7 linked regions of the Homo sapiens genome follow. The protein of the gene in region 6 purifies or fractionates together with the protein of the main gene of each other region. This does not show direct contact. Each region holds a gene or a part of one and is shown on either strand. Other genes may lie near its edges. The genes, in order: CAMK2D, SMC1B, SMC1A, SKP2, CLPB, REC8 and ISY1.

What was found.
Region 1: the proteins of REC8 (region 6) and CAMK2D purify together in Homo sapiens (co-immunoprecipitation; one large-scale study listed by IntAct). This does not show direct contact.
Region 2: the proteins of REC8 (region 6) and SMC1B purify together in Homo sapiens (affinity purification with western blotting, with the first as the bait; one study listed by BioGRID). This does not show direct contact.
Region 3: the proteins of REC8 (region 6) and SMC1A purify together in Homo sapiens (affinity purification with mass spectrometry; 2 studies listed by BioGRID and IntAct, with this or other methods). This does not show direct contact.
Region 4: the proteins of REC8 (region 6) and SKP2 purify together in Homo sapiens (affinity purification with mass spectrometry; one large-scale study listed by BioGRID and IntAct). This does not show direct contact.
Region 5: the proteins of REC8 (region 6) and CLPB purify together in Homo sapiens (affinity purification with mass spectrometry; one large-scale study listed by BioGRID and IntAct). This does not show direct contact.
Region 7: the proteins of REC8 (region 6) and ISY1 purify together in Homo sapiens (affinity purification with mass spectrometry, with the first as the bait; one large-scale study listed by BioGRID). This does not show direct contact.

What each region holds. Positions count from the first base shown.
Region 1 is NC_000004.12:113,751,739-113,755,238, forward strand, and holds part of CAMK2D (calcium/calmodulin-dependent protein kinase type II subunit delta), read right to left. Parts: intron 3,353-3,500; coding exon of another isoform or gene 3,303-3,352; exon of another isoform or gene 2,735-3,302; intron 1-2,734. UniProt on the Homo sapiens protein: Calcium/calmodulin-dependent protein kinase involved in the regulation of Ca(2+) homeostatis and excitation-contraction coupling (ECC) in heart by targeting ion channels, transporters and accessory proteins involved in Ca(2+) influx into the myocyte, Ca(2+) release from the sarcoplasmic reticulum (SR), SR Ca(2+) uptake and Na(+) and K(+) channel transport.
Region 2 is NC_000022.11:45,400,100-45,403,599, reverse strand, and holds part of SMC1B (structural maintenance of chromosomes protein 1B), read left to right. Parts: intron 1-1,028; coding exon 1,029-1,267; intron 1,268-3,500. UniProt on the Homo sapiens protein: Meiosis-specific component of cohesin complex. Required for the maintenance of meiotic cohesion, but not, or only to a minor extent, for its establishment. Contributes to axial element (AE) formation and the organization of chromatin loops along the AE.
Region 3 is NC_000023.11:53,373,649-53,377,654, reverse strand, and holds the end of SMC1A (structural maintenance of chromosomes protein 1A), read left to right. Parts: 3' UTR 1-3,506; downstream 3,507-4,006. UniProt on the Homo sapiens protein: Involved in chromosome cohesion during cell cycle and in DNA repair. Central component of cohesin complex. The cohesin complex is required for the cohesion of sister chromatids after DNA replication.
Region 4 is NC_000005.10:36,162,111-36,165,610, reverse strand, and holds part of SKP2 (S-phase kinase-associated protein 2), read right to left. Parts: intron 1,967-3,500; coding exon 1,855-1,966; intron 1-1,854. UniProt on the Homo sapiens protein: Substrate recognition component of a SCF (SKP1-CUL1-F-box protein) E3 ubiquitin-protein ligase complex which mediates the ubiquitination and subsequent proteasomal degradation of target proteins involved in cell cycle progression, signal transduction and transcription.
Region 5 is NC_000011.10:72,424,532-72,428,031, reverse strand, and holds part of CLPB (mitochondrial disaggregase), read left to right. Parts: intron 1-3,500. UniProt on the Homo sapiens protein: Functions as a regulatory ATPase and participates in secretion/protein trafficking process. Has ATP-dependent protein disaggregase activity and is required to maintain the solubility of key mitochondrial proteins.
Region 6 is NC_000014.9:24,177,917-24,180,754, reverse strand, and holds the end of REC8 (meiotic recombination protein REC8 homolog), read right to left. Parts: coding exon of another isoform or gene 2,815-2,838; exon of another isoform or gene 2,665-2,814; coding exon 2,533-2,664; intron 2,150-2,532; coding exon 2,083-2,149; intron 1,979-2,082; coding exon 1,839-1,978; intron 1,671-1,838; coding exon 1,622-1,670; intron 1,359-1,621; coding exon 1,292-1,358; intron 1,161-1,291; coding exon 1,029-1,160; intron 956-1,028; coding exon 849-955; coding exon of another isoform or gene 746-848; coding exon 660-745; downstream 1-659. Other genes in the region: IPO4 (importin-4), read left to right, coding at 1-66, 183-313. UniProt on the Homo sapiens protein: Required during meiosis for separation of sister chromatids and homologous chromosomes.
Region 7 is NC_000003.12:129,137,064-129,140,563, forward strand, and holds part of ISY1 (pre-mRNA-splicing factor ISY1 homolog), read right to left. Parts: intron 3,423-3,500; coding exon 3,305-3,422; intron 134-3,304; coding exon of another isoform or gene 68-133; intron 1-67. Other genes in the region: ISY1-RAB43 protein, read right to left, coding at 3,305-3,422. UniProt on the Homo sapiens protein: Component of the spliceosome C complex required for the selective processing of microRNAs during embryonic stem cell differentiation. Required for the biogenesis of all miRNAs from the pri-miR-17-92 primary transcript except miR-92a.

The sequences.
Region 1 (3,500 bases), on a different chromosome or scaffold from region 6:
CAGCTTGGGCGACAGAGCGAGACTCTGTCTCAAAATAAATAAATAAATAATTTTAAAAAAAATTTTATCAGACATAGGAAGAAAATAATTTCCTGTTACTAAACAAATTCCAAATAAATTAAGCATTGCCTATATTTAAGAGGGTAAAATTATATACTAATATATGAGAAGTAATGTATTTTATTCCATGAGTTTACACATATACCACACAAAATAAAATAAAATACAATTTACCTAGAAAATGGCTACATATATTTATTCCATGAATGACTGGCCCACTGAGATCAGCCAGTTAATTAAAAAACCCCAGGGTATGAAGAAATAAAAAGAGGTTTCTCTCCTAAAAAAGTTAGGGATGGTGATTAGCTCTCGGGGAGATACAAAGGATAGGGATCAACAAAAAGCACACAGGTAGCTTCAAAAGTAGGGAGAATGTTCTAGTTATTGAGTGGAGGCTTATTGGGTGCTTATTGTTATAAAATTAAATATATATGATATAATTATATATATCAAATTTTATGCAATAAAACTTTTAACATTCCTATGTAATCAATGTAACTGAAGGAAAACAGGAAACCTATTGTAAAACAATTAACTGTATATAAATATTATATCACAATACTTTGTGTACCTTTATACTACTTGCTGCACCTAAGTTATTTTTTCAACAAATATAGAACTTGACAATTTTATATTTTTCTTTAAATTGCCACATTTTTGTAAGAATTTGCTACATACAACAATGTTGTTCAAAAGGAAACTACAAAACAACAAAAATTTGTCTTCCATTGTTCACTGGTTAAACAAGATGAACCAGAAGAGTAGAACAGCTTTCTGAGTAGGTTTCTCTGGGCTTCGGTTAAGGGCTGAGTTTTAGTTTGCAGTGACAACTGAATCATTTAGAAGAAGTAATCCTAGAAACTTACTGTATAGTGAGATATTTTTAATCAGTTAATGAATTAAGTTTACCAAAATACTGAACTCCTCTTTAACCATTTTCCTACCATTTTATAATAACATTTTTCACTATATTGTTGTCCTTCCAGAAGACAGCATGGAGGGACTGTCTGAAACTTCACTTTGATCTTGTTATAGTAGCATTTAAAAGACTATCTTCTCTCACAGGTTGGAACTCTAAATGTATTTTCCCAAAGAAATACTCAATCCCCCACACTGCAATGGGAAGATAAAATGTAAGGCATAGTGCTTTGTATGAAGGACTCTGAAGTTTGTAAGATCAGTTAAGCACACACAGGTAAATACAGACAGATTAAGATAAGTCCTCTCTAATAGCAATCAACAGGAGGTGACAGTGGAAAGAGTCAGAATTTACAGTCAGAGAAAACCAGATTGAAATCCTGACTCTTATCACTTACTAATTTTGAGGCCTTATACAAGAGCCTCAGTATTCTTTTTTAAAATGGACATAATATTGTTCTAGGAGGCTGCAGTGTGGATTAAATAAAATAAAACAAAGTATCTTGTAAATATATACTTATTGTCTCATAGAAGGGGCTCTTCAAATAATGGCTATTAATATTTATATTTTTCTAAATTATTATTAATGATGAAGATGGCATTATTGATTTTGGTAGTAATAAACATAGTTCTAAGGAGTTAAAATGAGACTGTAACACCAGAAAAGGGGCTCAGGTAACTAAAAAAATCAGTGATGTCATTGTGTCATTGTGTGTAATTACAATGATAGCTAAGAGATTTAAAAACAAAACCAAACAAACTTAACAAAAAAGCTGCCCTCTCTCCTCTTCAAACCTACCAATTTCCCTATGCTAGAGTAAGAGAAGTTATGGCAGATAAAAGGTCTATGATTTCTCCTTAAGTATTGCTAAATCTCTCAACTGGAATTAGAGGAATTTTGTCACTTAAGAAACAGCCTACGTCATTTAAAATAATTTTATTCTAAAAATAACTGTATACTGATAATTACAACAAATTTACCATATGAATAACATAACATTTTGTTATAATCAGATATTTAAACTACTTTGAGCAACTTCCCCAAATCATTTATTTAGACTTTTTTTTTCGGTTGGGTGGGGGCGGGGGTGGTACTTAAGCCCCATCTACATTATAGCTTTCAAAATTTCTTTAAATCAATACTATATGAAAGGCTTTCTTTATCTCCCTGGGCAGAAATAATCTTGTCCTCCTTTAAGAGCCCATAGTACTTTATTCATGCTTGAATTGTAATGCCATTCATGTCTTCTATTATGTTTATTTAGGTAGATAGCCTTTATTTTTCCTAACACTGTCCACTGAAATCATTTAATATTTATTAAATAAACACATAAAGACATGTGAATATGCTTAATGATCTATAAAGTGATTTGAAATATAAAGATATGTTTTACAGTTAAAATATTGCTAATACTCCATTTAATGCATTGCAGTGTAGTTTACTAGAAATACTATTGTAACTTAAAATCTTTAACACAGCCTCTATATAATCATTAATTGCCAATGATTTATTAAAACACTGCATACATTACACCCTAATAAATGGGGAAGACTGATGTTAAAAAATATACCAATCCAGCCCTAGAAATACTATGAGTCAACCTCAGTATAAGCCCAAGGAAGACTTTAAAAATAAATTAAAATTCTAGTTAACAAAAAAGTTAGATGCCCAAGAAAAGCCCAGTACATGTAAGATTTCTAGTAATTCGTGATTATTACCATTAAAAAGATCCATAAAAGGTGACATATTGCTAAATTTTAATTTTTATATTCAGTTTATTCAACATTTCAATGGAAATGAGAAGTATTAATCTAATTGTCTAAACAAAGTTCTCACACAATCAGGTAGAGGTTTACACTAGTTATTAATATCACAGTATGGCACCTGACAACCACTTTCTTTATTTTCTTCATTTAATGAAATACAGAAAAGAATTCTATTATTTCCTGGAAGTGTGGATATACTTTTTTTTTTTATTATTTGTGTCTCCTAACTAGTTCTGAAGAGCAGTAATGCTTTCATTCAATGAAAGAAGAAAATGAATGTTTAATATCAAGACCTATAGAAGAATGTAAATACAACTAAACGTAAGTAAAGGATACAAAATAATAAGGATGACACATGCCACTTCTGGGTCCATAACTGAAGAGTTGTGGAGATTCTATGTACAAATATAAAAATGATTTACTAATTTTTTTCTTAAAATGTTGTTCTTGCCAAGAAACCTTCAAATTTTAATTTGTCCAAATTGTTCCAATTTGCCAAATCAATAATGTATAATCAGAACTTAATCCATCTACATAGTCTCAGTTCTACTTCCAATTCAAGACAAGTAACCATGAAGTTGAGAAATTACAGTACTTTCTTGACTGCCTGGAAGCCAAAAATAAAAGAAAAGTAGCAAGAATTAGTTTTTAACATCCCTTTTACAACATCAAAAAAGGTTACTTAGGGATACACACACACACACACACACACACACACACACACAAAACATTTAGATTTTATAGATGAGGCCTAA
Region 2 (3,500 bases), on a different chromosome or scaffold from region 6:
CGCCTGTCTTTCCAGCCACTCAGGAGGCTGACACAGAAGGATCTCTTGGGCCCAGGAGGTCGAGGCTACAGTGAGCTGTGATCGTGCCATTGCATTCCAGCCTGGGTGAGAGAGCAAAACTCTGTTTCAAACAAACAAACAAACAAACAGGATCAGGGATAGTCTGTCTTATTTTCTGCTATATTCTCAATGCATAGACCAGCACCTGGCTCATAGTAGATACTCAATACATATTTGAAGAAGTAAATGGAAAGTGGATGTTTCTTATTAGTGATGTTTCTCTGTGTCTTCATGTTTTCTAATATGTATACATGTCCTTGGTTTTGTTAGTGGAAAGGAGTGGCAGCAGTGGAAGTCAGACTATAATAATCACAATATACTGAACTGCAAAATTTAAACATTTTAAGGACAGTTAGAACGAAACAACTTCCTAATTGTTTTTTACAACATCCTAGTGGATAGCCTGTTACTTTGAATACTTCCAATATTGATTAGGAGCTCCTCTTGAGGTAGCCTGTTCCTTTATTTCTTTAATAGCACAAATGTTAAGGAAATTATTATTTTTCACATATAATTTAGCACTGTAAGAGTCCTGTTTTATCGGTAGAAAAACTACTTCCTGTAGTAGGAATTTTTCCTGGAGTCATTGAATTTAAAGTTACTAGCACCTTATAAGTCATATCACACTCTTCTTTCAGTTTACAAAGGAGGAAGCTGATGCCAGAAATACTGATTGAGTTGTGAAACTCACAGGTCCAGACAAAAGGGACCCAGGCTAATGCATGCCACTTCTTTGTTCTCATCATCATACCACTGAGCGCAAGAACACAAAATCATTTGCTGGTGTATTGGGTTATTTAAAAAGTATATTCAGAAACCCTCGCCAAATTATGCTACTTTTGGCAAGAACATTATGTCCTAATAAATAAACATTCATTAGTTAATTTGTTGGTATAGTAGTTGAGTTTATGAAAGGCCAACTTAAATACACTCCCTTTTAACTGCTGTTGAATTATACTCTTTTATAGGCAGAACGTTACCAGAGTCTCCTTGAAGAACTGAAAATGAACAAGATACAACTGCAGCTTTTTCAACTATACCATAATGAGAAAAAGATTCATCTCCTGAACACCAAGTTAGAGCATGTGAATAGGGATTTGAGTGTCAAAAGAGAGTCTTTGTCTCATCATGAAAACATAGTTAAAGCCAGGAAAAAGGAACATGGAATGCTAACTAGACAACTACAACAAACAGAAAAAGAATTAAAGTGAGTTTTTAAAAGTAGATATTAACAGTTGGGTTATATGTAGCTTGATAGAGGGAATAATATAAGTGACACTTTGAAAATTGATTTTAAAAATAAGCTTTTTACTTTGGAATACTTTTAGATATACAGAAAAATTATAAAGATAGTATAGGCCAGGTGTGGTGGCTCATGCCTGTAATCCCAGCACTTTGGGAGGCTGAGGCAGGTGGATCACGAGGTAAGGAGATCGAGACCATCCTGGCTAACACGGTGAAACCCCGTCTCTACTAAAAATACAAAAAATTAGCTGGGCATGGTGGCAGGCACCTGTAGTCCCACCTACTCGGGAGGCTGAGGCAGGAGAATGGCATGAACCTGGGAGGTGGAGCTTGCAGTGAGCCGAGATCACGCCACTACACTCCAGCCTGGGCAACAGCGTGAGACTCCATCTCAAAAAAAAAAAAGGTGGTGTAGAATGGTCCTGAAGTGGTGGTGTTTGGGGTAATACCCGAGGTTCATTGCCTCACAGCAAGGAAATCAAGGATGCAGACACACAAGGAGTGAGGTTAAGAGTGGGTTTAATAGGTGAAAGAAAGAGAAAAGCTTTCTCATGCAGAGAGAGGGGCTCCCAATTGGGTCTTCTGGTCCACAGTGAAGTACAGGCGGTTTTATAGATGAGCTTGAGGAGGCGGTGTCTGATTTAGGGCATGAAGGGTTGTTCAGATCAGGTATTCCATTTGCATAGCACGTGAAGAACCGCTTAGGACTAGATGTGCCATTTGCATAGTGCACAAAGAAGCTGGCCATCCCACCCTAATTTTTTATTATGCAGATTCTGTACCTGGCTGGCGCCATGTTTGCCAGCTTTTCTACTGTACACGTGGTGACAAAGAAAAGGGAAGATGGAGCCTTCATGTTGAACATAGCTGGCTTCTGAGTACCCCTTTTCTATTGGCTCAGCTGCCGGCATTCACTCGTGTAAGCTTCCAGCTTGCTTATGTACCCCATTTGTAGCCTAATTTTTCAGGCTCCTCTTTGTTAGAAAAGAAATGATTTTGGGGCTGCTTTTCGTTAAAAGGGAAGCTCTGCTGAGGACTCTCTTAACCTTCACTATCTGCCTAAATAATTTATTTTTAGCCCCTGTATCAGTCCCATATTCCCAACACTCAGTTTCTCCTATTATTAATATCTTACATTATTATGATACATTGTCAGAATTAATAAACTAATATTGATACATTAACTAAAGTCCATACTTTATACATATTTTCTCAGCTTTTGCCTAATGTCCTTTTTATGATCCAGAATACCATATTACATTTAGTTATATGTCTCCTTAGGCACCTTTTAGCTGTGACAGTTCTTGTTTTTGATGAACTTGACAATTTTGAGGAATATTGGTCAGTTTTTTTATAGAACATCTTTCAATCCGGATTTGTCTGATGGTTTTCACATAATTAGACTGAAGATACAGACTGTGGGGAGGAAGCCCACAGAAGTAAAATGTCCTTCTCATTATATTCTATCAGAGTGTCAGTGTATTATATATGTTACATGACATTTATCATGTACTATATCATGTGTCATATCAACATGGTATCACTGTTGATGTTGACCTTGATCACCTGACTGAAGTAGTTTTTGTCATGTTTCTCCTCTGTGAGGTTATTTTTTCTCCCTTTTCATACTATAATCTTTGAGAGGAAGTCACTATGCTTAGCCCACACTTAAGGAGTAAGGAGAGTTATGTTTTACCTTGAGGGCAAAGTATCTACATGATTTTTTTGGAATTCTGCACAGATTTGTCTCTACTTAATTATTTTAAAATTAAATTAATTGTTATTTGTTTACATCAGTATAGATTTATGGATATTTTACATTTAGAGTTATAATCCAGTATTACATTGTTGATTTTGTTGCTTAGATTGTTCCTGCTGTGGCCACTGAGAACTCTTTGAGTTGGCTCCTGTGTCCCTTTGAAATATTCTCATTACTGTGATTTTTTTTTGGAGCTCTTCCTTACTTTCTAGAAGATAAGTATCTTCTACTGTCATCTTGTATAAGCCAGTCCAAGCATCAGCTTGCCCCAGCTTGTATGAGCCTGCCCCAGGCTCTCCAAGGAACCCTGGTTCCTTTTATCGGAGAACAGTATTAGGAACCAACATCTAGGTGGTAGGTGTGTTCGTTGCTACTGGAGTGTCCTTGCTTCTAGGCTTTCTCAGCTGTTGGAACTAGGAAATACCTGTGTATACTA
Region 3 (4,006 bases), on a different chromosome or scaffold from region 6:
ACTGAGGCCCAAAAAGGTTTGAACCCAGGTCTTCCAAGTCATTCAAGTGCTTTCTCCACTGTACAGGTGGTTATCAACCTTGGCTGCGCATCAGAATCGTTTGTAAAGCTTTTTCTTTTTCCTTTTTAAAAAGTAAAGCAATATATACACAGGTAAAAAAATAAAATAGTACAGAAGGGCTTATAATGAGAAGCAGCAGTTCCCTGCTTGCACCCCCACATCCAAAGGATGTGGAGCTCTTTAAAAATAAATTGCTCTGGTCCCACCTCTGGAAATCTGATTCAGCCAGCATGGATAATAACCCAGATAACTAACCCCTACCTCACAGGATAAAAAGGATTACATGAGATGCCTTAGGCTAAGGCCCTGGCACACAGGAACACATGTGCTACAAAGGAGCTTTGGGGACTTAAGTCCTGAGGATCCAGGAGGTGAGGTGACTTGTCCAAGATTCCACTGGTTTAGTGGCAGAGCCTAGACTTCCACTCGGATCTATTTAGTGCTTGCCCCCTGCTCTCTCCTGTCGTGCCCCACCACCTCCTGGCATCACAGGGCAACCGTTGTCAAGGCTATGCTCACGGGAGGCTGGGCACCACAGTGTTTCCAAGAGCAAGCTGGATCCGAGTAGATTCCCTAGGGCTTGTTGGAGGAACTAGTTTGACTCCCTTATACTGTGGACGCAGTAGCCTTGCTGTAGGGAGTTGAAGAGTACTCCACAACAGTATCTTAAGTTTAACTGGGCACTTCCCTCTGGAAATCACAGTGTTGTGCACCAGGAACACAAAGATGAGTCAAATCTTTATCCTGCCTTTGAGGAGCTCACTGTTTAGTTGGGGAAACCATTTGTAAAACAGCCATTAACCATACAGTGTGATCAACACTGACAGGAGCACAGGAAAAACATCTAGCTTATGTGAAGATTCAGAGAAGGCATCCTGTAGTCTAGGTGGTGATACCTGAACTGAGTCTTGAGGGACGGGTAGGAATTAGCCAGTTGAGGAAGTAGAAGGAATTTCCAGATATTGGAAACAGTATGCATGAAGACATGAAGGCAAGAAACAGCAAAACAAATACTGAAGCATGAAGATTCCTGGGGTGGGGGGAAAGCAGCAAGAAAAGGTAGAGAGGAACCAGATTGGAAGAGGGTCGTAAATGCATGGCTACAGAATTCAGATTTGTTTTGTAGGACAGTGTGGTTCCCAAACTGGCTGTATACCACAAACAGGTACGGCATTCTGGGCCCCGGCCCCTAAAACATTCATTAAGTCTGGGGTGAAGATTTGGAATCTTGAATGCTTATAAAGGTTACCACATGACTAGGGTACAGCCAGATTTGGAAACCATAGCTTGAAGGCAGTGAGGGAGCCATGAAATGGTTTTTAATAGGGGGACTCCAGATCAGATGTGAACTTAACCTGTTTCTGGCTGGCTAGCCAACCAGCATGGAAAACAGATTAGGTTAGATGTTCATGCTGTATGTGCCCGTGCCTGTAGCTTCCCTGTTAATCAGCTTCTTACACTACTATATTTGCTTATTTTGTCTCTGAATAAGCTTTAGGCACCACAAGGGTGGGCCTGGGGATATTTTGCTTACCAGTATAGCCCCTGCAAAAAAGCACAGTGCCTGACACAAAACAGGCACCCAGTAAAGTTTTTGAATGAATGAATGCATGAGTGAATCCATTTGTGAGAGAGCGAATGGAGATGACAAGATTAGCTAGGAGACTGGAAAAAGACCAGGAGGCCTGCACTAGGGCAAAGGCCAGTAGGAATAGATTGGAGGTGTTAAGGTGTGAACTGTTAAGGTAAGATGATAACTTAATGACTGATTATTGGATGTGGAGGGTGACTGAGAGGATAGAATGAGTACCCATGAATAGCCATGATTCCTACCCTGTCCCAGTCATCTCTTTCCTTATCCATCTCTGAAACAATCTGCTTACATCCTCCTCAGCAACTGGAATTCCTCAAGTTAGTTAGACATTCTGTGTGCTGTGTGGTCTCTCACTGCCCCCCCACTCCCCACCCCTCCACAAGCCATTGATTCATTCATCCAGTTCAATAAATCTTGGCTAAGCACCTCCAGTGTGCAGTAAGGCTCTTCCAAGCCAGGACTCTGACTCCCTCTTTCCTACCTCAAGAGATGTTTTTGAGGGCTTTCCCAGGTAAGAGTCACATCTCTTATACAATAACTTATAGTGAGATACCCAGAATGTCAGACTTGTAAGGGAAGACTGCCCAAACCCCTTCTGAGGTCCTCAGAGGGGAATTAACTTCCTAAGGTCCGACTGCTAGGAAGTGTTGGAGCCAGAAATGGAAGCTAGGTTTCCTTTCTATGTCATCTCTGGAGTCTTGATCTTGATCTATCCCATTGTAGATCAGGACAGGCAGAGGTGGTCAGGGAGAAGGTGGGACTTAGGTTGAACCTTGAAGGTCAATGTATTGGACAGGTCAAACAAGATGGTTGCCAATTACACTGCCCCCTTCTGGAAACCCTTAGCAAACCTGCCATGCTTGCAGTCCCTTCTAAGGGGTTTCCTTAGCATAAGTTGCCATGCTCTGTACCATGTGACCTCACAATCCTGGCCACAGATAGCTAGATGTGGATAGTGTCTGGTTCAAGGGCAACCAATCTCTAGGCTGGCCAGTGGCCTGTTAGCTGGACTGGCATAAGGACTTCACCTTACAGGGGTGGCATGTATCAAATGGCAAATGTATGAAACAACCAGATCTTTCAGGGAGGCAGAATGTGAGCTATTCAGAAGAAGTGAACGTTAATTAGAATTTAATGAGGCATTAGTGGTGGTGGATGAGGGGTGGCCAGAAACTAAACAGCAAAAGCAAAGAGAAAGCTGCAGAAACCATAAGTAAGCAGAGGTCATGAGACATTTGTATAATGAGATCACGGAGCCACAGGGTGGCAGAAGCCATGAAGCAGCAAGGCAACAATGGGCTAGAAGCCATGAAGCAATAGGAGCCACGAGGAACAGAAACCGTGAGACAAAACTGACTATGAGATCCACAAAGCAGCAGAAGGCTTGAATAGATAAGATCATGAGACAGTAGAAGCGATGAGACTGCAAGAACCACAAGGTAGCCAGAACCATGTGGCAACATGGCAACAGGAATGGAAGAGGCAGCAGGAGCTACAATGCAGAAAAGCCATGGATTAATAGGAACTGAAGCGCCGGGAGCCATGAAGCTGCAGGACCCATGAGGCAGAAAAAGCCATGGGCTAGCATCGAGGGGGGCAGAAAGAAGTTAGTCAGTAGCAGTAGGAGGAGTATAAATACAGCCAGAAAGGAGTTGAGTCACCAATTTGGGAAGCACTAGAGAAGGGAGCAACAGATGCCTGCAGCTGAGGGGGTGACAAGATAAGCCAGGCTCTAGAGCTGCTTTGGATCATGAACCATTTTCAAGTTTCTGTTCTTCCATGAGGCTGCCTGTGTAGCTGTTCTTGTCTTCCTTATTTCCCTGTGAATGCTTTAATAAATCCCCATCACTAACCTGTGTGTGTCTTTGTTCCTTGGAATCTAAAAGGTTAACACTGGTGTGCAGTTTAGATAACAGGAAAGCAGGGCAAGAGGTCTTCCTGGTGGGGTTGAAGCAAGACACAGAGGTGGGAATTCACTCATCCTTTCCTGCCTCACTGGCATGGGCACCTTTCATTCACTTACTTATTTTTATCATTCATTCATCCACTCATTTATTTATTACCTTATATATGCACTAACTCACAACTTCACTCACTTATTCATTAATGCATTAATGTAAGCATTTACCAGTTCATTTGCTCTTTCCTGTATTCACTCATGCATCATTTTTCCATCCATTTGTTCAGCAGGCATATGTTAAATTCCTGTCATGTGTCAGGCCCTGTGCTAGGTTCTGGGAATTAGATATACATGCCCTCCAGGAATTCTTGGCTTAATTGGGAACTCAGATAAGTAAGTGGTTAAGCACACTAAGTGTGGAAGATGATATAATGGACGTCTAGGTGAGGCAA
Region 4 (3,500 bases), on a different chromosome or scaffold from region 6:
TAAGATATCCTTAAGAGAGTGGCACACTTTTGTATCTTTCTTGCCCAGACAGAAATCCATTTTGGCCTCCAAGGTATTGGTATTGACACCAGATCAGCACTGCTCTGGTTGTCTTGAATCTCATGCTTGATGTTTCCTCTTGCAAGAAGGCAAACTATAGCTTAACCAGCATTCAATAACAACAACCTGGGAGAAGTTTTGGAACAATTCATTTTCTTTCCAAATAATATACATTTTTTAGGAAGATGAACACCTCACAGAAAAATGAATTTGGGAGCTACCTGAACCCTAAGCCAAGCATAACTAGATATGGTATGATGGTTAAGACCGTGGAGTTAGCCAAACTTTAGATTCCTGCCTTTCCACTTATCTCTCAACCTACTATTCCTGACCCTGCAGTTTCCTCACCTCTGAAGCTGAGATGACACAAACACCATCACTTAAAATCATATGGAGGATTAAATTGCAAACACTGCACCTGTCACAAAGCAAGTGCTTAATAAATGTCAGTAATTACTTTTATGACAACTGAGATGAAGTTTAACAGACTCTAAGGGAGATGTAGGTCAAAGAATACAAAGCCACAGATATGCAGGATGAACACATCCCAAGATATAGTATACAACAGGAGAACTAGAGTCGATAATACTGTATTGTAGTCAGAATGTTTGCTAAAAGAGTAAATTTTAGGTGCTTTTGCCACAAAAAATAGGTAACTATGTGAGATAATGAATATGTTAATGATAGCAGCCATTTCACATACTTATAACAAAATATCATGCTGTATACCTTAAATATATACAATAAAATTTTAAAATGGGATTAACAGACTCTGCAAGAAGAGGATAAATGCATAGCTGGCAGAAAAAGAAAACCAAAGTGGGGTTGAGTGCGGTGAGGGTAAGTGAAACTTGCCTGCCACTTGCACCAGCATTCCAGGTGTGCAACCCTCTCTGCGGCTCTTCTAAGCAAACAACCCACACCTGTAAATAGCAGCACGCCCTTGAAGGCAAGAGGCTCCTGCTATCTCACACAGGGAGTTCTAAGTATGTGGAGGGAGAAGCCAGACGGATGGCCTTTAAACACAAAGCAAAGAATGACCAGGAGGTAGGATAGGGATGAGAAGGCATGAAGATAGTAAAAAGTTCCAGTTGATAAACATAGCCTTTTTCTTGCTCCAGGCCTGTTATTGCCTTTCCAGCTCACCAAGTCTTTCCACATGCAACTCACCTTCCACACTTGAAAAGTGTTGCCAAAAAAAGAGCACAACCCCACCAATGGCTACTCTGTGTGGAACATGTCTGTGAGTCAGGCATTACACCAGCATCTTCACATTTCATCCTCATAACCAGTGGTTTCCTCCTCATAACCATTATCCCCATTTACATATGGGGAGACTGAGGCTCAGCAGTGTCAACTAACTCACTCAGGTCATGCAGAGCGTAAGCAGCAGAGGCTGGGTGTGCACTCGGGTCTAACACCAAGCCTGTGTTCCCTCTCCCTATTGTGCTCACTGCTCAGCCCAGCGGCGTGAGGAACCGCTGTCTGCATGCACCTCTGTAACTCTCTCCGCACTTAAAGCACACCGCCTGGCCTACAGTCAGCATCCCATAAACACATGCTGCACTGAATACAGGGCAAAGAGGTTTCCAGACATTGGTAAGTTTATCCCTCCCAGGAAATTCCTCTTCCACTGTGAAATGAGGACACTGATTAATAAAAATATGAAGATACCTAGTTTGCTTTGCGCTGCTCTATTTTTCTTGGTTTTTAGTTTCATCAGACCAAAACGAATAAATAACCTTCCTCTCCTCTTCCTCCCCTACGTTTGCCAAAGGGGTGAAAAATACTTACGCTAGGCGATACCACCTCTTACAAACACCAGAGACCTTTAGCAGCTCAGGGAGGCACAGACAGGAAAAGATTCCCAAGAGCAGCTCATCCGGAAGGGAGTCCCATGAAACACCTTTGGAGGGAAAACAAGTGTTTGCCATCACCATTCTTTCACCCTATCAAGTCTACTGAGTCTTTTCAAACACATAAAGAATATACAACATTTAGCTTAAATGAGGAATTTAGCACAAATTAAATTACTCATCCTCACAATTATTTTTGTTTGAAAAATCATTTCTGTTGAACAGAAAAATAATTGTGGTGATGAGTAATTTAATTCGTGTTAAATTCCCCATTCCATCATCTATGTACCCTGAAGTGACCACCACACTCTCTCAGCAAATCAAAAAGAGAAACCCAGAACACTTTTCCTATTCTTCCCTTCAGCTCTAGCCAGCCAATCGGAGGCTGTGGCATGAAGAGTGGTACAGAGCAAGTCCCACCCTCTCAAATGTCATTCAATGACATTGTCAATTCATTGACATCAATAAGATATTGTGGTGCTTCTGGGTGCAAAGGAAGGCCTTGTTTCTCTCTGATGTGGACTCAGTAGTGACCTTATTTAAAAGGCAAATAAATCTTCTTCCCTTTCTGCTATGGTTGGCTGTGTCCCCACCCAAATCTCATCTTGAATTGTAGTTCCCATAATCCCCATGTGTTGCGGGAGGGACCCAGTGGGAGGTAATCAAATCATGGGGACGGTTACCTGGTGATAACCGCCCCTGTAATTTGATGCTGTTCTGGTGATAAGTGAGTTCCCACAAGATCTTATGGTTTTACAAGTGGCTTCCCCGACCCCTTTGCTCTGCACTTGATGCCGCCATGTGGAGAAGGACGTTTGCTTCCCCTTCCACCAAGCTTGTACGTTTCCTGAGGCCTCCCCAGCCAGGCTGAACTGTGAGTCAATTAAACCTCTTTCCTTTATGAATTACCCAGTCTTGGGTATGTCTTTATTAACAACATGAGAACAGACTAATATGCTTTCTTTCAGGTTTACAAAAGGCACAGTTTACCTAAAAGAGCAATACAAAAGGGTATTGTCATTTCTTAATTCAACAAATATTTACTGAGCTCCTACTATGGTGCCAGGTATCATTTTAGGTGTTGGGAAGGAGTAGTAAATCAGACCCAAAACACTACCTTCGTGGGACTTCATTCCAGTAATGCGGAACAGATAATCACACATCAAAAAATAAGTACATTATATGATATAGTAAAATTGATCTGTGCTGTGCAGAAAAATTAAACAGGGCAAGGGAGAGAACAGAGAGTTCAGAGCAGATGTTATTAAGTTTGAACATGGTGGTCAGGGAAGGCCATACTGAGATGACGATCACTAAGCAAAGGCTTGAACAAAGTGAGGGAGTGAGCCCTGTGAGTATCTGGTGTACGTGTTCTAGATCCAAGGAACAGCATGTGTGTTTGAGGCATAGCAAGGAGGCCAGTGTAGAGCGCAGAGGTAGGTGGGTAGAAAAATCAGAGAGCAGCCAGGTCATGCAGGCTTCCTAGGTCATGATAAAGCCTTTGGCTTTGACGCTGAATTCTATGAGGCACCACTAGAAGATTCTGAGCACAGGAATGACAGGCCCTCACGTAAGTTCAAAAAG
Region 5 (3,500 bases), on a different chromosome or scaffold from region 6:
GGTAAAGGGAGCCTGACCATCCTTGCTAGAAGGAAACTTTCTGGAATTCCTACAGTAGGTCCTTATTCAGCCTTTCTGTACCCTAGACTCTGTACAGGTGGTTCATGCTGCTCTTTATTTCTTCTTCAATGTCCTGGGCTCTTAGCTCTGCCCAACAGACCTGCCTATAGCAGGACAGAATCCCATACTCATTTATTTCTTTGAATTTACACATACAGTCATGCCTTGCTTAACAATAGGGACACATTCTGAGTAGTGCAATTTCATCACAGTGTGAACATCATAGAGTATACTTACCCAAACCTAAATGGTAATAGCCTACCACACACCTAATCTATATGGTATAGCCTGTTGCTCCTAGGCTAGGAATCTGTATAGCACGTTATTGCCCTGAATACTGTAGGCAATTGTAACATAATGGTAAGTATTTATGTATCTAGACATACCTAAATACAGAAAAGGTCATTTGTTGCACTATGATGTTGAGACAGTTACAACGTCACAAGAGGATAGGAATTTTTCAGCTTCATTATAATCTTATAAGACCACCTCATACATGCAGTCTATCGTTAACAAACACATCATTGTGTAGCGCATGACTGTAGGTTACACATGGTTGGGTCACTGTGTATATGATTGATATGGTCAATAATATCAGTATTTAGAGCAAAACTCAGACCTCGTAAATAATGTCGTGCTTTACCCTTCTTCCCCACTTGACCTCTCTGGGGCTCTGTACTGTGTCTGCCTCTACTTGACCTCCCCCAGCTCCTGTCCTTAGCCCCAGAGTCTTGGGAAAGTTCTGGATAGTGAAGGGCAGCAGCCTAATGCTCTTCTGCTCCCAGGGGGAGGTATTCGATCCTCCTCTTTAAGGACACCCTGGAATCTTCAGTCCATGGGCCCTGGATGTGGGTCCTCCACAGATGGCCCTCTGCCATCTGTATTCATTATCCTCTGCTTACACCTTTCAAAGCTCTAGTGCTGCTTTCCTTACAGAGCCTTCTTGGATTCCTCCCAGCTGGGTGTGATCTCATCTTCCTTTGCCTCTTCCCCCCACTCTGATCCTACACCTGCCTTCTGGTCTGGGAGGGTATGAGGGTGATCTAGAAAGGACCATGGCAGCTTGTCACAGGAGGGAGCTCCTTTTGTGGAAGAGAAGCTGGAGGTCAGGTTGGAGAAGTAGAGCTGAATGCCACTTGCCACACTGTTCTTTATATGAAGAAGTCTGTGGGCTATATTTCATCTGAAACTGCTGGATTGTGCACCTCCTGAAGGGCAGGGACAAGGTTGTGTTCTCTACCGTCTTTTACCCTGTTCCACAGCACAGCGGCACTTACTTGTTTTTTGTGACTCTTTCTTTGCTTTTTATTGACTTTTCAGTGTACCTGAAGTAAGCAGTCCAGAGGCTTTCACACTCCCCTTGGCTATATCAGAGGGAGGCCAGGTCTCTTCTCTTTCCTCCCTCCCTCGCTCCCTCCCTCCCTCCCTTCCTGTGTGACATCCATTTCCTCCCTTCTCCCCTGAGGCACTTAAGTTCATCCATCTCTGGTTCCTCAGAAGTGGAAGCCTGGCCTCCTACCTGTCAGCAGTGTGAGCAGGTGGTCCTGCTCCTGGGCTTACCCCAAACTTGAGCCTGAGGAACTGCTCACCCGAAACCTAGGGCACAAGGCAGACTAGAGGCACATCTGTCCAGGCTCAGGCCAAGCCATGTGAGGAGTTGTCAGGACTGGGACTGGGAAAAGTGAGGCCTCCTGTTCTCCCGGTGGAGATCACATTTCCTTCAGCACAAAGTGGGTGAAAGACAACACCCCTACCCATCTCCCTTCTCCCAGCAGGGGGCTAGGCCTCTGCTGAGTGCTTACCTCAGTTGTTCATCAGCCCAAGCAGTCTCTAATAAAGGAAGCCTGGCAAGATCAGTCTTGGGCCTCAGACTGCCTGCCCTTTTTCTCCAGGATTTATTTATTCATTTGACAAACAGCATCTGCCATATCCTGAGTCCTCTGCTTGGCACAGGGAACACTTAAGCAGTCATGGTTCCTGCCCATGATGACAGAGTCGGGGTAAACTGTGGCAATAGGGTGGTCAGTGCTGTGAGACAGGAAACTACAGGGGCTGCAGGAGACCAGAGGACAAACAGCCTGGAGGATCTGAGAAAGACTTCCAGAGGAAATGGCACCTGATCATAGACTTAAAATATCAGTTGGACTTTGTAAATAGAAGGGGAAGCCATTCCAGGCAAAAAGGGCAGCATATGTGGTAGCATAAGGCAAGGAGCAGCCTGGGGGGTATGCAGAGGGGAAGTCACTTGCTGTTCGGTGTTGCTGGATCACAGTCTGAGGCCAGGAGGGACTGGAGACAGGTAGCGACCTGGTCGTGGAGAACATTGATTGACTCTCCGTTTGTCCCTCAGTCGCCCATCTGTCCAGCCTGTGCTTTGTGCCTAGCCCTGAGCTGAATTTGTGGCAACAAAATGAGGAAGGAGAAACAGTCCCTGCCCTAGAGGAGCTCGTGTGCCCTCTGGTGAGGAAGAAGGACATGAGTCAAACATTGAGAGCCAGTGAAACAAGGAACAAATTACCTACCTTCCAACTAACATGAAGATGATAATAACTAACCCCACAGAGTGGCAGAGTCATTATTACTAATAACAAAATGATTAATTCATTCAGCCAATACTTACGAGTGCATATTCAGAGCTAGGCATTGGGCTGAATGTGGCAGTTAACAGTAACGAACAAGATTGGCACAGTCCCTGCCCTCTTGGCACAGTCTAACTAGGAGTCAGATAACTAATTATGCAACTGTAAAATTAGTAGAAAGAGTTTACTGGGGCCAAGTTTGAGGACTGCAACCCAAGAGTCTAGATTCAAGTTGCCATAAATATATGCTCCAGATTAGCAACAGTTGCAAGTGTGTTTTTAAAGGGAAAAACAAGAGACACTTTTTTGTTGTTTTTGAGACAGAATCTCAGTCCGTCACCCAAGCTGGAGTGCAGTGGCACGATCTCGGCTCACTGCAACCTGCGCCTCTTGAGTTCAAGTGATATTCATACGTCAGCTTCCCGAGTAGCTGGAATTAGAGGTGCATGCCACCACACCTGGCTAAGTTTTTTTTTGTGTTTTTTTTTGTTTTGTTTTGTTTTTTTTGAGACGGAGTCTCATTCTGTCCCCCAGGTTGGAGTGCGGTGGTGCGATCTCGGCTCACTGCAAACTCCGCCACCCGGGTTCATGCCATTCTCCTGCCTCAGCCTCCCGAGTAGCTGGGACTACAGGTGCCCGCCAACGCGCCCGGCTAATTTTTTGTATTTTACAAAGAGACAGGGTTTCACCATGTTAGCCAGGATGGTCTGACCTCGTGATCCGCCCGCCTCGGCCTCCCAAAGTGCTGGGATTACAGGCGTGAGCCACCACGCCCAGGGTATTTTTGTTTTTTTTTTAAGTAGAAATGGGGTTTCACCATGTTGGCTAGACTGATCTCGAACCCCTGACCTCAAGTGATCT
Region 6 (2,838 bases):
TAGATGTGGCTCCCGAGCTTCTGCGTATCTGCAGCCTCATTCTGGCTGACAACAAGATCCCACCAGGTGAGGGTAGGAGTCATAGGCAGGGGCTTGCGGGAGGCTGGGAGTGGCAGGGCTCAGAGAGCCTGGGGCAGCGAGGCTTTAGGAGCCCCGACCTTTCTCCCTCCCTCTCCACCCAGACACCAAGGCCGCACTGTTGCTGCTCCTGACGTTCCTGGCCAAACAGCACACCGACAGCTTTCAAGCAGCTCTGGGCTCACTGCCTGTTGACAAGGCTCAGGAGCTCCAGGCTGTACTGGGCCTCTCCTAGACTGCAGGCTGCAGCCAGTCCAGAGAGAATAGAGCCTGCCCAGGCCTTAAGACCACCTCTCAGCCCAGTTCAGTTCTGCCTTACCAAAGATTCTGAGACTCATACCCATTTGGAGCCAGCCCCACTTGCTGCCTTACAGGGCTGTCCCTGAGGCTGGATCTGTTACAAATGAGTCATGACATCATACTGTAATAAAAGCAGCTTGTTTTCTGCTTGAACAATAGCTCTGAGAGCAAGAAGGCTGGAAATGCACATTCAGAAATGAGGTAAGCAGGACCCAGTGAGGCACGACGTGGTTTACTAGAAGTGGCCGGTTTCCTGGCAGCTTTGTAAATGGACTCTAACCTCAGTGGAATCTGGGCCCCGGCTGGATCAGGAGGCGACCATATGGCTTTTCTTGTTTCACGTGAAGAATCTGTTGCGCTGAGAGCACTGGTCAAGAGGCGAGGAGAGGGCAGGTCGGGGGAGTCCCTGTACGGGCCTCTGGTCTCTGTGTCCCTGCCCCACATACACACACACACATGCATACACTCACCCAGGAGCAGGTAGAAGACCCGGGCAGCCATCCTGCGGGGGCTGAGAGGTGACACCAGGCTGCTGAAGTCGGGCTCCCTGTTAGCCTGCAGCTCCAGTGCCACTGCCCTATAGGGATCAAGAACCATTAGCAGAGGCTTCAGCCCGGGTCCACCCCATCAAGGTGCCACCTCCCTGGTACCTGTGCACTGCTTCCAGTGAGAGCAGCTCGAGCTCTGGGGGCAGCACCAAAGGCATCTCCATGGGCACCTCAGGGAGTTCAGGCACCACGGGCAATGCAGGAGCTTCTGGCGCCTCCACCTCAGGCCAGGCCCTAGGAGGACATGAGAGAGTAGGGAAGGTGGCAGCTGTGACAGTGACAAGGGGCATACCCATCCCAGCAGCTGTTTCCACCACCTGGCCAAGGGCTGTGGGCCCTGGCTCCCACGGAGCCTGGCCGCTTACCACCGTTCTTCTGGTGGGATGAGGCTGATGCGGGACTTCTCCTCTTCAGCTGCCTCTAGGGAGATCTCTGTTGGGGGAGGAAAGGCGCTAGTGGGTGTCTGCTTGGGTGGCAGTTAGGGCCTTGTGGCCACCTGGTGTAAGTAGATGGCAGAGCCGTGCGGTGACTTGTTAAAAGCACATAGGTGGGAGAGCTGAGGAGGACCAGTCCGTGCTTCCTTATGTCACACACACACGCCTTCACTCATAAAACAGCTTCAGCAGTTGGGATACTAGTTTCCTGGGACAGTGGTTAGGGTGTGGTCCCACTGCGCCTCTTCTCTAGGTGCTTACCTAAAGACACCATAAGGGGAACACTGGGCTCCAGGGCCTCCCTCGGGACCTGGGGATGGGAGAAGTAGAACTAAGACCCCAAGCATCTGGGACTTGGGCCTCAGAAGGCACAAGGCCAGTGAGCCTGTGCTGTTGGCTCTCATAGCAGGAGAGGGCAGCCAGCTGGTCAGGCAGACCCTGGCACTGGGGCGATGCAGTAAACAGGTGGTGCAGTTACCTCAATCTCACTTGGAACTTCAATCTTTCTCCTTTCCTCCTCAGCGGCTGCCTCCTCAGGCAGCTCTCGCCTGAGGGCTTTTGGGGGTGGCTGGGCACAATGGGTCCAGAGACCCAGTAGTTCAGGGGGTAGCCAGCCAGCTGTGGACAAGAGGGTAGTAGGCACGGGGTTTGAGGCGTGAGGAGCACCAGGAATGAGGAATTGGTTTTGAGGATACTTCGTGCCCAACCCCCACCATTCTTACAGAGAGTTGGGGTTCTGAACAACTCCGCAGGGCCTCTGATGGTCCTCTCGGGCGGCTGCACCATAGGCTGTGTAGTGGGGGAAGGTCAGAAGCCCCATTATAAAGCAGCCACTCCTCAGGGCCCCTTTGCCTCTTTGCAATGCACTGTTCTGGGGCTTCTGGACTTCCCCAGCTTTTGCGCTCATGACCCTGCCTGCCCTGCTCATTGCTAAAAGAAGGACTTTTTAACCTGGTGCCCATGGGTATGACAGGTGGGTCACTAAAGGAGCATGAAGAGTTGTATATGTGCAAACCCACATCGCCTGCATTTTCTGGAGAATGGAGGAGATTTTTCATCAAGTTCCCAATCCTCCCCCCACCCACCTGAGGAGTTTGGAAGGCTCAGCCTGCATGTGCCCCTGGTCATCCCTGCCTCCCTCCCTTCCCCGGCAAAGCCTGGGCTGCACTCACACATTCCCAGCAGTGGGCTCTGGTTTGCAGTTGTTCCTGGAATTTCTCCGGGGAGATCTGAGTCTCCTTGTCCCAGAACAGTAACCGGCGACGACGGCGGCGGCGAGGAGGTGGGGGGACTGGGGGCCTCCTCTGTTGAGTGGGGAGGGCAGGTAGGGGCAAGGCTGCCCATTACTCCTTTTCCTGTCATTCTGGTGGACTGCTAACAGGACCCCACACCCGCCCCTAGAGGAACCTGGAGAGGGCTTGTGCGGGGTCTCCATGCACTTGAGCAGCTCATACCTTGCATAAGGGTACCCATCTGGG
Region 7 (3,500 bases), on a different chromosome or scaffold from region 6:
TTTTGTATTTTTTTTTAGCAGAGACGGGGTTTCACCATGTTAGCCAGGATGGTCTTGATCTCCTGACCTTGTGATCCGCCCGCCTCAGCCTCCCAAAGTGCTGGGATTACAGGCATGAGCCACCGCACCTGGCCTAAAAAAATAAAAAAATTTTTAAGGCCGGAAAGGAACATACCAAACAGATAATAATGGTTATCAGTTACCTCTAGGAGGGGCACTGGGATGAGTGTAGAGGTAAGAGGACTTTAACTCTATCTGTGCTATTTGAATTATAACCAGTAAAATTCACTTATGCATTTTCTTTCTAAAACAAAAATCTTTTCAATAGATGACAAAAAAGGAAAAATAAATTTAAAAACCCAAAACTCTATCACTGGAATAAGCAAAAATATATTTAGAAAAATGTAAATGCAAAAAACCTAACATATAGAGCATAATCACAATATAGGAGCCACCCCAACACAACCCTTTAGAAACTGGAAGGAACAGCCAGGCGAGGTGGCTCACTCCTGTAATCCTAGCGCTTTGGGAGGCCGAGGTGGGCAGATCATGACATCAAGCGTTTGAGACCGGCCGGGAGCAGTGGGATGTTATCCCAGCACTTTGGGAGGCCGAGGCGGGCGGATCACGAGGTCAGGAGATAGAGACCATCCTGGCTAACACGGTGAAACCCCGTCTCTACTAAAAAAATACAAAAACTTTGCCGGGCGTGGTGGCGGTCACCTATAGTCCCAGCTACTCGGGAGGCTGAGGCAGGAGAATGGCGTAAACCCGGGAGGCAGAGCTTACAGCAGTGTGCCGAGATCGCATCACTGCACTCCAGCCTGGGCAACACAGCAAGACTCCATGTCAAAAAAAAAAAAAAAAAAAAAACTCGAGACCACCCTGGCCAACATAGGGAAACCCTGTCTCCACTAAAAATACAAATTAGTACTGGGCACAGTGGCTCACGCCTGTAATCCCAGCATTTTGGGAGACCAAGGCGGGCGGATCACAAGGTCAGGAGATTGAGACCATCCTGGTTAACATGGTGAAACCCCGTCTCTACTAAAAAAACACAAAAACTTTGCCGGGCATGGTGGCGGGCGCCTATAGTACCAGCTACTCAGGAGCCTGAGGCAGGAGAATGGCGTGAACCTGGGAGGCAGAGCTTGCAGCAGTAAGCCGAGATTGCGTCACTGTACTCCAGCCTGGGCAACAGAGCAAAACTCCATCTCAAAAAAAAAAGAGCTCGAGACCACCCTGGCACCAACACAGTGAAACCCTGTCTCTACTAAAAATACAAATTAGTACTGGTCACGGTGGCTCACGCCTGTAATCCCAGCACTTTGGGAAGCTGAGGCAGGTGGATCACGAGGTCAGGAGATCGAGACCATCCTGGCTAACACGGTGAAACCCCGTCTCTACTAAAAATACAAAAAAAAAATAAAATTAGCTGGGCATGGTGGCAGATGCCTGTAGTCCCAGCTACTCAGGAGGCTGAGGCAGGAGAATGGTGTGAACCCAGGAGGTGGAGCTTGCAGTGAGCCAAGATTGGGCCACTGTACTCCAGCCTTGGTGACAGAGCGAGACTCCATCTCAAAAACAAAAAAAAGATACAAATTAGCTGGGCATGGTGGCATGCGCCTGTAGTCCCAGCTACTTGGGAGGCTGAGGCAGGAGAATTACTTGAACCCGGGAGGCAGAGGTTGCAGTGAGCCGAGATTGCACAACTACACTCCAGCCTGCGCAACAGAGCAAGACTCCATCTCAAAAAAAAAAAAAGAAAGAAAGAAAGAAAGAAACTGGAGGGAACAATGCCCTAATGTATTAACAATCATCACATATGAGGTGTGAAAATGTGAGTGGTTTTTTTCTGATTTTCTGTATTTTATAACTTTTTTTTGTTTGAGATGGAGTCCTGCTCTGCTGCCCAGGCTGGAGCGCAGTGGGACGATCTCGGCTCACTGCAACCTCTGCCTCCCAGGTTCAAGTGATTCTCCTGCCTCAGCCTCCTGAGTAGCTGGGATTACAGGTGCCTGCCATATGCCCAGCTAATTTTTTTTGTATTTTTAGTAGAGACAGGGTTTCACCATGTTGGCCAGGCTGGTCTCGAACTCCTGACCTTGTGATTCTCCCGCCTCAGGCTCCCAAAGTGCTGGGATTACAGGCATGAGCCACTGCGCCTGGCTATAACTCCTCTGTAGTAAAAAATATATTCCTTCATAATTAATGGCACAATATTTAAACTCTGAATTATTTTTAAGGGATGGTAGTGGCCTATGCAAAACTAGCTGTGGAATAATGAATTTTAAAATAAGCAGCATTTAATAAAAATAGAACTATATTTTTTTTAAAATAGAAAAGCCAACTAGAAGGAGATATAACAAAATGCTAATAATGGTGAAAATACTGGCATCATTCTTCTCTGCCTCTCATACTTTTTCCTATGAAGTGTTGACTACCTTTCTAAAACACAAAATCAAAACCGACTAAAACTCCAGACTAACAGTTTCAAATTATATTCAGGAGGTTTGGCTGAAAGAAGGAGGAAAGGTGGGTGTGCCCTATTTGGATTCACACAAAAGTAGCTCCACTTTTCTCCTTTTTTTTTTTTGAGATGGAGTTTCGCTCTTGCTGTCCAGGCTGGAGTGCAATGGCACGATCTCGGCTCACCGCAACCTCCACCCCTCAGATTCAAGCAATTCTCCTGTCTCAGTCTCCTGAGTAGCTGGGAGTACAGGCATGCACCACCATGCCCAGCTAATTTTGTATGTTTAGTGGAGACGGGGTTTCTCCATGTTGGTCAAGCTGGTCTCTAACTCCCTACCTCAGGTGATCCGCCCACCTCAGCCTCCCAAAGTGCTGGGATTACAGGCATGAGCCACAGTGCTGGGCCTCACTTTTCTCCATTTTTACATTTAGGGTTTGGCCCAAGATTGTATTTGTTCTTTGGTTATCATTTGTTCAACTAATAAGTAACTGAAACATGACCTGATTCAATGAACTTCAGAGCCTGCCCCAATCGTTCTGGGAAACTTCAAATAGGGAAACTCCTTGTCCAGACTGACAGATTAGCACCTGCCAAAGGCAGAATCCTGCACCAGCCAATCCTGGGCACACTTTCCAGCCCCAATTGTATGGCATGGGCCTATGATTCTATCCCAGTTCTTAAGAATTCTCAGTTAAAATCTGGGAACAATAATTCCTACACTATAAGGCTGTTATGCAACTAAGAAAAAAAAGTAAGAGCAGTTAGCATATAGCATATCTACTCTTATGATTATTACCAATGAAAGGCTAAAACTGTCACAAACTTACTTACGTTCTTTTTCAAACAGCTCTCTAACACCAGGCAAATCTTTTGCTGCTCCAAAGTACTTGTAACCTCGGTTTCCTGGGACTTCTTTTCCTTCATGATCCAGCATTTTAGGGCCAACTTTCTTATTGGGAAGAAAAAAAGAGAAAATGGATCTGTTAGTTAGTTAGTTAGTTATTATTTATTTATTTATTTGAGGCGG